Linked DNA regions of Homo sapiens. Each later gene encodes a partner of the first gene's protein in a complex. Links are inferred from orthologs where the notes say so. Each region holds a gene or a part of one and is shown on either strand. Other genes may lie near its edges.

Region 1 (7,025 bases):
GGCTTTGGTGGGTCAGTTGAGCTTAGCAGTTAAGGTCCTCGACATTTCAGAGCCGAGCATCCTTTCCAACTTTATTTCCAACTACAAGGTTTCTAGTATGCAGTCTACAGACAGACTGTTCATTGCTACCCAAACAAATCTTGTTTTTTTCTTCTCTAAATCTTTGTTAAGCTACCATTTAGGGTTCTTTGGCTGAATGCGACAGAAGTGATTCTGGCTAAACTAATTCAAAAAAGATAATTTGTTAGAATAATGTGGGGTGGCTCATAGGATCAATGGACAAAAATGAGCCACCCAGCTTGGGAAAGACAAGTATGAGGAGTAGCTCAGGATACCAAGGAAATAGGAACTTACAGTCTCTGCTAAAGCAAAGTCTTGAGCGGCTCTAACTATTCTCTTTCCTTGGTTCATTCTGATCAAATTCCTGGCAAAAATTCTATAAATGTCCTTGCTTAGGTAATATGTTCACCTCTTGACCTACAGAGGGCAGGGCAGCCTGTCAGTTCTATCAAGACTGGAATAAGGGGGTTTAAGTAGTTCCTCAATAGGAAATTGAGTAGATAGAATGAAAGCTGCTGGGTGCAACAGATGCCCACTGCATCCATTTATTGCAACCTCTTATAATATAGTCTTTGCTTGTTTCTGTCTGTCCAAACCCCACCTATCCTTCTAGGCGAGGTCCTGAGACATACCTCATTTCCTTTGAATTCCTAGAGTTCTATGCTCGGCTCTAGGGGGTACAACGGTCATTAAAAATTAGGTTCTACAGTTTCCTCTTTTTTTTTTTTTTTTTTTTGAGATGGACTCTCACTTTGTCACCCAGCCTGGAGTGCAGTGGTGCAATCTTGGCTCACGGCAACCTCCACCTCCCAGGTTCAAGTGGTTCTCCTGCTGCAGCCTCCCGAGTAGCTAGGACTACAGGCATGCGCCACCACACACAGCTAATTTTTGTATTATATTAGTAGAATGAGGTTTCACCATGTTGGTCAGGGTCATCTCAAACTCCTGACCTCAAGTGATCCACCTGCCTCGGCCTCCCAAAGTGCTGGGATTACAGGTGTGAGCCACTGCACCTGGCCTGCAGTTTCCTCTTCAGGCTCATTGCCGGCTCCTTGAAGGCAGAGACTACTCTTGACAAATCGTGTCCAAACTCTGTATTTAGCATAGAGAGCTGTACATGGTAGGGGCCACTAAGTGCTTACAGAATAAATGAGTCAGTCTTAGCACGCAGCAACATACTTATTACTCACAGAGAAACTGAGGGGGAAAAACAGCTCATTTTAGTGAGGACTGGGGCAAATCTTCCCATTTGAAATGACAAATTTCCCTTCACGAAAAAAATAATTAAATTGGAATAGAGGTGGAGTTAACACAATTAGATCATTTTCTTTTCATAAAATTCATTTTGTGATGGTGCTGTCAGAAATAATGATGGAACTGAGACATTCTTTGATTGGTCCTTATAGTGTTCCTCATGTTTTTAAGAAGGCAAATCTCAAAAGTGATGATTTAGGGGTAAAGTATGAGGAAGGAAGGAAGGAAGGAAGGAAGGGAGGAAGGGAGGGAGGGGAGAAGGAGGGAAGGAACAAAGGAAGGAGGGAAAGAACAAAGCAAGGTGAGAAGGAGGGCGGGAGGAAGGGAGGGAGCAGAGAAGGAAGGAAGGAAGGAAAGGGAAGTGAAGGGAAGGAACAAAGGAAGGAAAGGAACAAAGGAAGGAGAGAAGGAGGGAGGGAGGGAGGAAGGAAGGAGGGAAGGAGGGAAGGAGGGAAGGAGGGAAGGAGGGAAGAAGGGAAGGGGGAAGGGGGGAAGGGGGAAAGGGGGGAAGGAGGGAAGGAGGGAAGAAGGGAAGAAGGGAAGGGGGAAGGGGGAAGGGGGAAGGGGGGAAGGAGGGAAGGAGGAGCGGAGGGGAGTGGAGGAGGGGAGGGGAGGGGGAGGGGAGGGGAGGAGGGGAGGGGAGGGGAGGGGAGGGGAGGGGAGGAGGGGAGGGGAGGTGAGGGGAGGGGGGAGGGGAGGGGAGGGGGGAGGTGAGGGGAGGAGGGGAGGGGAGGAGGGGAGGAGGGAAGGGGAGGGAACTGAACTAGATGACCTTGGAAATACCTACCAACACGAAGTTTTGGTAACCTGGCAACATTTACATGTAATTCCCAAAAGAGATTCATTCTGCCCACCCCAAATGACATCCCCTTTCAAACAACATGTACCTAGGATTCAGACCTTTGTAACTAAGGGCTATCATTAATGTACATGGTGCTCTGTGTTTAACATTGTTATAGTCAATCCTTAAAACAACCTTTTTGAGGTATTATTACTATCCCTTTCTCAAGCCATTAAATAAGATCAGAGATACTAAATTATTTCCTGAAAGTTCAACAACTAATAAATAGCAGAGTTGGAACTCTAATGGGGTGGGTCTGTTGTCCTGAACTGAGCTCGTAACTGCTATATGTATTATATAAAATATACTATTTAATATATAAACAGTCTCCCACTTTTTTTTTTTTTTTTGGTCTATAAGCTTGATAAGTGCTGATGTACATACACATAAGTCTTAGCATAGTATGTATGATCTTTTCTTTCCTACTCAATACATTTTTAATTAGTTTTCTTTTTCATTTAGAGACAAGATCTCGCTCTGTCACCCAGGCTAGAGTGCAGTGGCATGATCATAGCTCACTGTAACCTCAAACTCCTGGGTTCAAGGTGTCCTCCCATCTCAGCCTCCTGAGTAGCTGGGATGACAGGTGCGTGCCACTATGCCCAGCTAGTTTTAAATTCAATTTTATTTTGTAGAGATGGGGCTTCACTATGTTGCCCAGGCTGATCTTGAGCTCCTGGGCTCAAGTGATCCTCCCATCTTGGCCTCTCATTTCCTACTCAATAGAAGTTCTTAGTGCTGACGTACAAACAAGTCTTTGCATAGTATAATTCTTGATATTTACAGAAGTGCTTAATCAGCACAGAACACCCTCATTAAAGTGTCAAGGCTCACTTGAATTCAGTTACTTGTACCTGTCTTTGTGCAATGTAGATATGTTAAAATAAAACTAGCAGCAGAAATTATGTATGTACTTAGAAATGTAGGGTCAAACCACTAAGAGAGGAACAGATAATTTTTAAATGGGTATATTACTGATGCTACCCTGTGTAACATGGTATAGAATGGTCAGTGTTGAAATAAAGCAATTACAGAATGATCCATCTGATAATGGATTAGAGCTGGAGATACTAGTATGAACTTGTGTTTAACATACTATATATACAAATGATTACATATGCAAATGCTTGTAGATATGTTCATATACATGGCTTAGTATATACATGTGAATTTCCTTGCTTTGTCAGCTGAGAGGTTCCAGAGGCAACAACACCCCGGGAGTAATGTGCACACCTACTGTCCAGATCTTGGTTTCTAATACCCTTCTTTAATTAAAGGAAACAGGATTCCTCAGAGAAAGGGCTGATTCTAGCACTGAAACAGGAAATAGAGAAGATGATCCTGGAGTATCTTATACTATCAGAAAGCAATATAGTCCTTAAAAAAAAGAAAAGAAAAAAGCCAAAATGATGGGGGTATACCAAAAGGACACAGAAGCCAAATTAAAAAAAAGGCTCCCAATGGTCAACGCTAAAACAATTTGAGCAACATGAAAATAAAGTAGTATTGGAATATAACACAAAGGATAAAATAGGTATCTATGAGTCCATACTGATGTAAATGACTGAATAAGTAAATAAATGAATAGATAAATCTCTCTTACATAAAAGAATTACAAATAATTCACGTAATTACTTGGCTTCAAGGAGGTAGAGTGTAACTCTCCACTCCTTAAGTATAGGCTATGCATATATGATTTTCTTCCAAATAGTATGGAAAAGGGAGGGAAACAGTAACTTTACAGTGGAGAAACCTGGCAAACACTACCTCAGCCACGTGATAAAGGTTAACATCAGTAGTGATAAGTCATGTTGACAGTATGTATTCTTGGTATGTGGTGAAAATGATGCTTTACTTCTGTGGTCCTCCTCCCCAAAACCCAGAACTCCAATCTAATCATGAGAAAAACATTGAGCAAATCCCAGTTGAGGGAACCTTCTAGAAAATATCTGACCAGTACTCTTCTAAACTGTAAAGTCATCAGAAACAAGGACAGTTTGAGAAACTGTCATAGCCATGAGGGGCCTAAAAATCCATGAGTACTAAATGTTTTACAGTGTCCCAGATTGGATCCTGGAATAGTTAAAGGACATTAGGTAAAAAGAACAAACAGAACAAAACGAAATCTGAATAAAGTATGACCTTTAGTTAATAATAATGTATCAATATGGGCTCACTAGCTGTAACAAATGTACCATATTAACATGATGTTAATCACAGAGAAAACTGGGCATGGGGTATATGGGATTCTCCGTACTATCTTTGTGATTTTTCTGTAAATTTCAGACTGTTCTAAAATAAAAAGTTTATTTAAAAAAAAAAAACAAAAACAAAAGACTGAAGCCATTACTTAGGTTGACTAAATTGACCAATATATAGACAACATACAGATATATAGATCTATAGATGCATACACACACACAATTGTTTATATGAATGTATATTATTCAAAGATGAATACAACCCCATAAAAGCTTAATTTTTTTTTTTTTTTTTGAGACAGAGTCTCACTGTGTCACTAGGCTGGAGTGCAGTGGCGCAATCTTGGCTCACTGCAACCTCTGACTCCCTGGTTCAAGTAATTCTCCTGCCTCAGCCTCCTGAGTAGCTAGGATTAGAGGCACGTGCCACTACACCCAGCTAATTTTTGTATTTCTAGTAGAGACGGGGTTTCTCCATGTTGGCCAGGATGGTCTCGATTTCCTGAGCTCGTGATCTGCCCGCCTTGGCCTCCCAAAGTGCTGAGATTACAGTGTGAGCCACCGCGCCCGGCCCTAAATGCTTAAATTTTTTATGAGACATAACTGGGCCATCAGTAACTGCTAAAGACTATCTTCCCTGTATGCTCAATTGAAAAAGCTGGACCTTGCCCAGCAGCTCATGAAGCAGATTTTGAGGTAGCCTGAATCCTAACAAGGAACAAACTATTGTAGCAGTGAGTTCCTGAATCAGGACTGGAACCATCCCTTCAACTGTAACCCTCTAGAGCAACAGAAATATAATGCAAGTCACACATGCAATTTTAAATTTTCTTGTAGCAGTATTTTTTAAAGTTTTCAAAAATAAAAAACTTTTAAGAGAAACAAGTGAAATTAGTTTTAATAATGTTTTTAATTTCAATAATACGTAATTGCATATATCTAAAATATTATCATTTCACAATGTAGCAACAGCCACATTTCAGGTGCTCAATAGCTACACGTAGATATTACAGCTCTAAAGCCAAATATATTTTAAGCAAACCACAATATTCATGAACAAAAGCCAACTTTTCTGAATTATCTCACTGCAACCACCTTGCAAAGGCAAGAGAGAATCACAGAAGTATGTTTATGCCTTCATCTACACGTGGCTAAGTCTAGATGGTCTAGACAATCCTCCAGGGCTTGGCATAACCAATCCACTAGACTCAGGCATTTCCTTCCAGAAAGGACACCTGCCTTGTCCGACACCACTTTCACTTCTCTCCTCCGACTGCCCCCCTTGGGATCCTGAGTTCAAAGCCCAGTTCCAAATTCATATCCAAAAGGCCCTAATCACTTACCTCCTTTCAAATGTGTTCATCAAGAGAAATTTACCTAATTCTAGTCTAGGAACAGAAAGGAAGCAAGAATTGAAGTGTAAGATTTAAGAGTTCAATTAACATGACAAAGTCTGAAGAGCGGGGTCCTAGCTAATCTTACCAACTGTTGTCTTCAGCAGCAGCAGTAATATCATTAATGGCTAGTATATCACGTGTTTTCTCTGTGTAAGAAGGGTGCTAGTGTGTTACATGTTTTATTTCACTGATTTTTACATTATAAGGTTGAAATTATTACTCTCTCACCCCCATTCTACCGATGGAGGAGACAGGCCTAGAAAGGCCAAGCAATTGTCCATGACTGCACATCTAGTAAGTAGCAGAACTAGGGTTCTAAACAGATCTGATGTCATGTCTGAATCTGAATCATTTTGCTGTAATACTTTCTTGGTACAATTCTGAGGACAGCCATAAAGTGACAGGATTCACAACAGATCATTCCCTCTCTGTGAATGGTAAAGTAAGCAACTAATTGCAAAAAGACTACTTTAAAATTCTTCAGGAAGCCTATTTCGTGTAACAGAATCTTTGCACCAGAGGAAAACATTCCCCACTTAAGAATTCACTCCCATCACTAGAGGAAAAGGAACTTCACAATAAAGTACTAACTGTATAGTTTCTGCTCATCCCTTTTCCTTACTTTCCCACAGAACCATAATAATTAAAAAAACAATGTTCAAATATAGTGCCATAGGGTATTAAGAAAGAACTCACCCATCTCAGTTCAATTACTAAAATTAGTTAAGATTCAAACACTTTAAGAGCAAAATCTCTTTATTGTTTAAAAAATATCACAGAGTAATCAGATTTCTTTCTTAAAATAAAATTTTTAAATGTTCACTCTTCTGTTCTCTTTGGAAGCAATACTTTAATACATTGTAACATGCACAGCAGAGTAAAGTTCATTTCAATAGATCTACCCACTCTACTTGAATTTAAGTAAGTTACTATGTTGGGGGAATTAACTGCTTTGGCTGGAAAGTTTGCTCCAATTTTTATCCTTCTTAACTCAAGTAAATTATAGTTCACCTCCTCTGGGTCACTTTTAGCTCAACACTGCACTCGCCAATGATGGCCAGAGAGAGAGATTATAATTACTTGTCATCAAACTATTTTTGCCATGGTTATATATATTAATGTCTGTTCATCTACAGACATACATCTGAAATTCATAACTACATGGATATATTTTTCATCTTTTTCTATACATCAATTGGAAATAGATTTAAAAAGGGGCAAGCACAAGTCATTATTAAGAGGGCAACTACTGCGTTTTTAAGAATTATGATC
Region 2 (6,866 bases), on another chromosome or scaffold:
AAAGCACTTTTCATACTGCCTGGAACACAGTATGTACTCAAATGTTAGCTATTAATATTACTAACAGTTGACTTAAATGATCCCCTGAGGCCCAATGCCCAATCAATAGCTAAATCTTACCAATTCTATCACCAAGGAAACCTCTCCTATCCTTTCCTTTCTTTTCATTTTCACAGCCCTAACTGGTATCTCTGATTCCAGTCTCTCCCTTTGAATTCAATTCGCACTTTCCTAAATAACTAAATCCAAGCCCCTTAGCTTAGCATTTAACATCCTTCATGTTTGGGCCACAATTTACCTTTCAATCCTTTTTTCCCACTACTTTCTGGAATCCACCACTCTAGCCAAATTAAATTACTCTTCTAGATATACTCTATGCTTCCCCACTATGATGCCTGTTCATTTTATTCCCTCCTGGAATGCTCTTCTCCTCTTTACCTTCGAAGGTCCAAATCTTTCCATCCTCTTTCCAGACATAACTCAAATGCCATAATGCCTTCTCAATTAAAAACAATCTCTCTCTTCCCAGAATACCTGCATGTTATTTATATGTCTTCTATAGCACCAATCCCTTTCAACTTTATATTTTGGTTATGAACTCTGCAGGTTCCCTGTTGAAAGATCCATGCCAGTTCTTATACTTACTACATACTCAAATAAATATATGTTGAAGGCCAGGCATGATGATTCATGCCTGTAATCCTGGCCTATTCGGAGGCCAAGGTGGGTGGATCACTTGAGCACAGGAGTTCAAGACCAGACTGGACAACATGGTGAAACTCCATCTCTACAAAAAATATAAAAATTAGCCGGGCGTGGTGGTGCACACCTGTAGTCCCAGCTACTTGTAGGGCTGAGGCAGGAGGACTGCTTGAGCCAGGGAGGTTGAGGCTGCAGTGAGCTGAGATCATGCCACTGCATACCAGCCTGGGTGACAGAGTGAGACCCTGTCTCAAAATAAAAATTTAAATTTAAATTTAAAACTGTATGTCGGATCTACCTTTGGGAGTATTCTGGTTTTATATATATATAAAATACACACGAAGATGGATAGATGGATACATGTTGAATGAATATTTCGCAAATAGATATTAAAATTAGATTTAGCTTCAACAAGAAAATTTCAGCCTTGAACTAGAATTTTCTGATCTAACCTGTATTACAGCTCCTTCACAAAAGGAAACTGGAACAAACAGTACTATACTTTCTAACCAGTGGTCATATTAATTTTTTTTACTTCTGGATTTTAACAGGCCACATATTCTTCCTTTCACTTCCAGAGTCTCAATCCCTTTTGATCAGAAACTTTCTACTTCTCAAATTCTACAATATACATTTAGATTTAAAAGCAAAGTGAGCCTGGGCAACATAGTGAGACCCCATCCCTACAAAAAATTTAAAAATTAGCCTGGCACGGTAGATGCATCCTTGTAGTCCTTGCTACTCAGCAAGCTGATCAGGAATTCAAGGTTATAGTGAGCTAGGATTGTACCACTTCACTCAGATCACTGCATTCTGCCTGGGTGACAGAAGTAGACTCTGTCTCGAAAAAATAAATTAAAAATATTTTAAATCAAAAAAATTAGGCTAGGCACAGTGGCTCACGCCTGTAATCCCAGCACTTTGGGAGGCTAAAGTGGGAGAAGTGCTTGTGCCCAGGGGTTTGAGACCAGCCTGGCCAACATAGCAAGACTTCATCTCTACAAAAAAGAAAAATTTTTAAAAGTTTAAAAACGAAAGCAAAGTGACACTCTTTAAAATATAGAATATAATTGTAATTCAGGACTAACTAGTTCTACCTATTAACAGAGTACGCCAAGCTCACAAAACAATAATAAACAACAAGGATGATGACCACCATTCTTTCCAAGTAAAGCTGCTGCTGATCTCCTGTTTATAAGGCTCCAAGATGATTTTCAAGCACAAGAAACACCCTGTATTTGACTCATTCAGCTACAGTTTCACTCAGACCCTAATGGGGAGGAGGGAGTTTTAAGACAAGCAATAGCATTCTGAATTCCACCAACAACTCTACCATGCCTTACTTGCTATGTGGTTGTGGCTAAGTGTCTTAGCTTCCCTGTGTACCAGATTTGTTCAAGAGCAGCTAAGTAGGGAAGGAAAACAAAAGCCTCATCTGCCTGAAATCCAAAAATACACCCCAATTATTTGTTACAAAAGACAAAATAATGTAAATTGAAATGCTGTTGGTGAATTCTCTTTATTAAAATGAAGTCATCCCACCTTTCAAATACCAGTCATTGTGTCTGATTTCCGAATTCATTACAGGAAGAACTGTGTATGAAGTCACCCAAACACATGCACTCTCCACTTCCCTTAATTGAAAGTTGCTGATTTCCGAGGAGCCAGGGGCTGAGCAGAATGTAAACCTAAAGGCTAAATCAGTAAACAACCCCATCCAAACTGGTCTAAGAGGAAAGCGAGGTGGGTGGGGAGGAAGGTGGGTGACAGGAGAAACTCGGCTGACCACTGCGCCAAGTCAACGCACTCACAGCTCTCGAGGTGACACACACTCCCCTTCCCACCCTCGGGCTGTCAAGTCGGCTGTTTTGGTCCCAGCACCGTGGGGGCAGAACTCCAGAGAAGCAGCTCAAGCTTCAGCTGGGGCCGGGGACCCTCGGGCAACCCGGGCCTGACAGATTGGGGGATGGCAGCCCACCGCCCCCAGGGTGGACAGCCCGAGACAGCCCCAGGTGTGGCCTCGGCCGTAGCCCCAGCCGGGCCCTGCGTCCCGGCAGCCTCACCCAGGCCTGTCCCCGGGACAGCTCCCGCCCCCCAGCTCGGTACCCCGGCTCACTGGCTTGGCTGATCCGCTGGATGTTGCCGCTGCACGTCTGGATGATGCTGCTGAAGTCCCGGAGCTGGGGCCCCGAGGGCCCCGGGTTCCGGTACATGTCTAAGGGACCGTATGACATGACGAGGAGCTGAGACCTGCTCGCTCTACACCGCTCTCCTACCGGAAGCAGCCGCCAGCCGGGACCCGCAGGCTGACGGAGAAACTGGGAAGAGCAAGGGCGGGGAAGGAGCTAAGGCTGCGTGCGCACTAGCCCCGCCCTCACGCGGCGCGCACGCGTCCTCCCCGCCCCGGTCCAAAGTGCGCAGGCGCCGCTGGGACTGGAGCTGGGACTGGAGCTGGGACTGTAGCTTAGAGACAGGACTCCCCGAGGCTTGGGGATGCAGGGCGGGGAGATGACGTCACCTAGTTGGGGCTGAGATTGGATGAGCTTGGGTGGAGGTGTTGTTTCTCGCCAGGGCACAGTGACAAGAGGCAAGAATTTTCGATTTGCATAAAACTGTACCAGATGATCTCAGCCCTTACATCCTATTCTGTTCTGAGAATTCAGGCCCAAATATGGGAGAATTCAACGTTGAAACTCAGACCCGGAACCAAATCGTAACCCGAAATTCCTCTCTACTTCCATCCCCAGGGCTTTGGTAGTGTTTGGGGTTTCCAAACCACTTTCATTTCTCCCTCCACCCCTCTTCTAATCTAAACAATAAAATAATGTTTATTGAGCACATACTATGTGAATCCTCACCGCAATTCACTTGTTCATAAGATTTTTCACAGCAGGGGACGATGCTCTATCTATATTTTTATCATTAGAATAGATAACGGAGAGTCGGTTTTTTAAATGTTGAAGTAAAGTAATTCATCAAAGTAAGCATTATTATTTTCCCTCTTACCGATGAGAAAATTAAGACCAGCGAGGTTAGTTCGCCTTGCTGAAATTTGACTGCAAAACCCAAACGCTAAGCTGACTCTCTCCTCACCTCGCTACTTCTCTAAAATTCATTCTCGTCTAAATCTCTCCCAAATAGCTCGTTCATCTATATCCCAAGCCGGGATATCTTGGAGAACTAGATTCCTAAAATTTAAAAATCGTTCCCTTAAGTAATTTGGAATGCATGACCTCAATGTTCCCACAGAAAACTGCATTTTTGTAAGCCTATGTTAAAAGGAAAGACATAGGATTTTGGTTTGGGAGGAGATCAAGATAGTGAGAAGTGAAGGGGAACTGGCTGCGTTTCCTGTGTTCTACACCCCACCCCACCCCACCCCAGCCTGCTTTGTAGTCTTTGGAAAATGCAAAGACAGAAAGCTGCTTGCCTGGATGAAAGGAGACCCAAAGTGAATGAGCCTGTATATGGCCTTAGGATTTTTTCTTTATTTTATTTTTTTTGAGACAGGGTCCCGCTCTGTCACGCAGGTTGGAGTGCAGTGGCGCGATCTCTGCTCACTGCATCCTCCTTCTCCTGGGCTCAGGAGGTCCTACCACCTAACCTCTGAGTAGCTAGGATTACAGGCGTGCGCCACCACGCCCAGCTAATTTTTATATTTTTTGTAGTGTTGGGGTTTGGCCATGTTGTCCAGGCTGGTCTCAAACTCCTGGGCTCAAGCAATCCACCCACCAGCCTTAGGATTTTTTAAGGGTGACTATCTCTATTTTTCGTTGGAGAATTTATGAGAGCATTTTTTTTCCCTGTCTCTAGAAAGAGACGGATGACATTTGGGGACTCTTATTTTGGTTATTTTATTTTATTTTATTTTTGAGACAGAATCTTGCTCTGTTGCCCAGGCTGGAGTGCAATGGCGCAATCTCGGCTCAATGCAACCTCCGCCTCCTGGGTTCAAGCGATTCTCCTGCCTCAGCCTCCCGAGTAGCTGGGATTACAGGCGTGTACCACCACGCCCGGGTACTTTTTGTATTTTTAGTAGAGATGGGGTTTGACCATGTTGGCCAGGCTGGTCTCGAACTCCTGACCTCAGGTGATCCACCCGCCTCGGCTTCCCAAAGTGTTGGGATTACAGGCGTGAGCCACCGCACCCAGCCTGTTTTGGTTATTATTATAAAACCTTACCGTTTCTTAGAATCTGTAGTTTTATGTCAAATCTTAAGCAAGTCATGTAAATTGCACTTTTTTACCTATATAATAGTACTGATGATTTTTTTCATTTACATTTGACACTATTTAAAGTGAAGTTCAGTAAAGATATTTTTCTTTTAGGAATTAAAAATATTGTTTTCTTTCTCCATGTAAAATAAAAGTGGTTTTTAGGCTGGGCGCGGTGGCTCACAACTGGAATTCCAGCACTTTGGGAGGCTGAGGCAGGCTGATCATTGCTTGAGCTCAGGAGTTCGAGACCAGCCTGGGCAAAATGGCAAAACCCTATCTCTACCAAAAATACAAAAATTAGCTGGGCATAGTGGCCTGAGCCTGTAGTCCCAGCTACTCGGGAGGCTGAGGCAGGAGTGTAGCTTAAGCCAGGGAGGCAGAGGTTGCAGTGAGCATCTCTCATAGCAGTAAATCTGTGCCTTGCAAATACTGGATGTCAAACAAACATTTATTGAATTAACACATGAATAATAAAAATAATAATTTTATCATTGCTTAAATGCCTGTTAGGTGCCAGGCAGTATGAACACATTTTGTGTACGTTATCAGTAATCTCCAAGATAAAGCCCATCTGATAAAGACCACCTGTAGTCAGACAAAGTTAAGTTTATTAACTTGCTGCTGCAAGGGAAACTGCACACCAAAAGAATCATGGAGCATGTCACAAAACACAGGAAGACAGTGAGTTATTCCAGGATTTGGGGGAAAGAAATGTAGATAAATTTTTAAAGAAGCAGTGTTTTGATAGCCCCCAAACACACCAGGCTATGTGTAAAGGGATTATCATCAGGCCCCAGCTAACAAGATCCTGTTTCCTTGGAAACCATGATGCCAAGATAAATGTGGAATGTTGTGTCTGGAAACCCCTTATCTGAAGCTCTGCACCTGCGTTAGAAATTGAGGCTGCTCTTCTGCATCAAAGTAACTGATCCTCCAGGTAAGAGTGATATATTCCATTCTTACTGATAATTTGAGCAACAAATTTTCTAAAAATCTATGGCTTTAGAGAAAATGTCTCTCAGCTCTACATACTTTTGTTAATTAACGAAAGTAGTCTTCATGGGTTTGCACCCATCAAGGCGATATTAGCTCCTTGGTACGGATAAAGAAACTAGAGATTCTGGGTACTTGCCTAATGTCATACAGCTGTTAAGTGACAGAGCCAGGATTCCCATGCACCTTCTGACCCAGCAATTCTACTCCTAACTATATACCCAACTATGCGTGTTCCAAAAATCAGGTATAGTTCATAGGAGCATTTTTAGGACCAAGCAGCATTTTTCTATACTTATTTACTTTTTGTTTTTTTTTTTCGGAGACAGGCTGGAGTGCAGTGGCGTGATCTCGACTCACTGCAGCCTCAATCTCCCTGGCTCAAGCCATCTTCCTACCTCAGGCCTCCAAGTAGCTGGGACTACAGGCACGCACCACCACACCTGGCTAATTTTTGTATTTTTTTGTTGAGATGTGGTCTTGCCATGTTGCCCAGGCTGGTCTCAAACTCCTGGGCTCAAGCAATTCACCCACCTCGGCCTCCCAAAGTGCTGGGATTACAGGAGTGAGCTATGACACCCAGCCCTTACATTTAATTTTTATTGAGTTATAATTGATATACAATCGAATGCACAGATAGTAAGTGTTCAGCTCAATGGATTTTGACACTTGTACACATCCATGTAACTGCCACACCCAAATCAAGAGATAAAACATTTTTATCATCACCCCAGAAAGTTTCCTTGACTTATGCTCCTTTTTAATCCATTTCCCTCATCACTGGAAGTTACTTACTGATTTTTTTTTTTTTTTGAGATGGAGTCTCACTCTGTCGCCCAGGCTGGAGTGCAGTGGCACGATCTTGGCTCACTGCAACCTCCACCTCGTGATTCAAGCAATTCTCCTGCCTCATCCTCCCAAGTAGCTGTGAATATGGGCATGCGCCACCATGT

What was found.
Region 2: the proteins of VTI1A (region 1) and STX12 are in contact, whole or in part, in a crystal structure (PDB 2NPS), measured with the Rattus norvegicus proteins. The link is inferred for Homo sapiens from one-to-one orthologs. Residues at the interface, in XP_038945999.1 of Rattus norvegicus: Arg131, Arg134, Ser135, Arg138, Leu139, Ala141, Gly142, Ile145, Ala146, Glu148, Thr149, Ile152, Gly153, Met156, Asn159, Leu160, Asp163, Arg166, Arg169, Ala170, Arg173, Leu174, Glu176, Thr177, Asn180, Leu181, Lys183, Ser184, Ile187, Leu188; in NP_075228.2 of Rattus norvegicus: Glu185, Ile188, Gln189, Leu191, Glu192, Ile195, Leu196, Val198, Asn199, Phe202, Lys203, Leu205, Ala206, Ile209, His210, Gly213, Ile216, Asp217, Glu220, Val223, Glu224, Ser226, Glu227, Val230, Glu231, Ala233, Ser234, Asp235, Leu237, Gln238.

The regions. Positions count from the first base shown.
Region 1 is NC_000010.11:112,450,193-112,457,217, reverse strand, and holds part of VTI1A (vesicle transport through interaction with t-SNAREs homolog 1A), read right to left. Parts: exon of another isoform or gene 6,492-7,025; intron 1-6,491. UniProt on the Homo sapiens protein: V-SNARE that mediates vesicle transport pathways through interactions with t-SNAREs on the target membrane. These interactions are proposed to mediate aspects of the specificity of vesicle trafficking and to promote fusion of the lipid bilayers.
Region 2 is NC_000001.11:27,769,378-27,776,243, reverse strand, and holds the start of STX12 (syntaxin-12), read right to left. Parts: upstream 3,026-6,866; 5' UTR 2,937-3,025; coding exon 2,819-2,936; intron 1-2,818. UniProt on the Homo sapiens protein: SNARE promoting fusion of transport vesicles with target membranes. Together with SNARE STX6, promotes movement of vesicles from endosomes to the cell membrane, and may therefore function in the endocytic recycling pathway.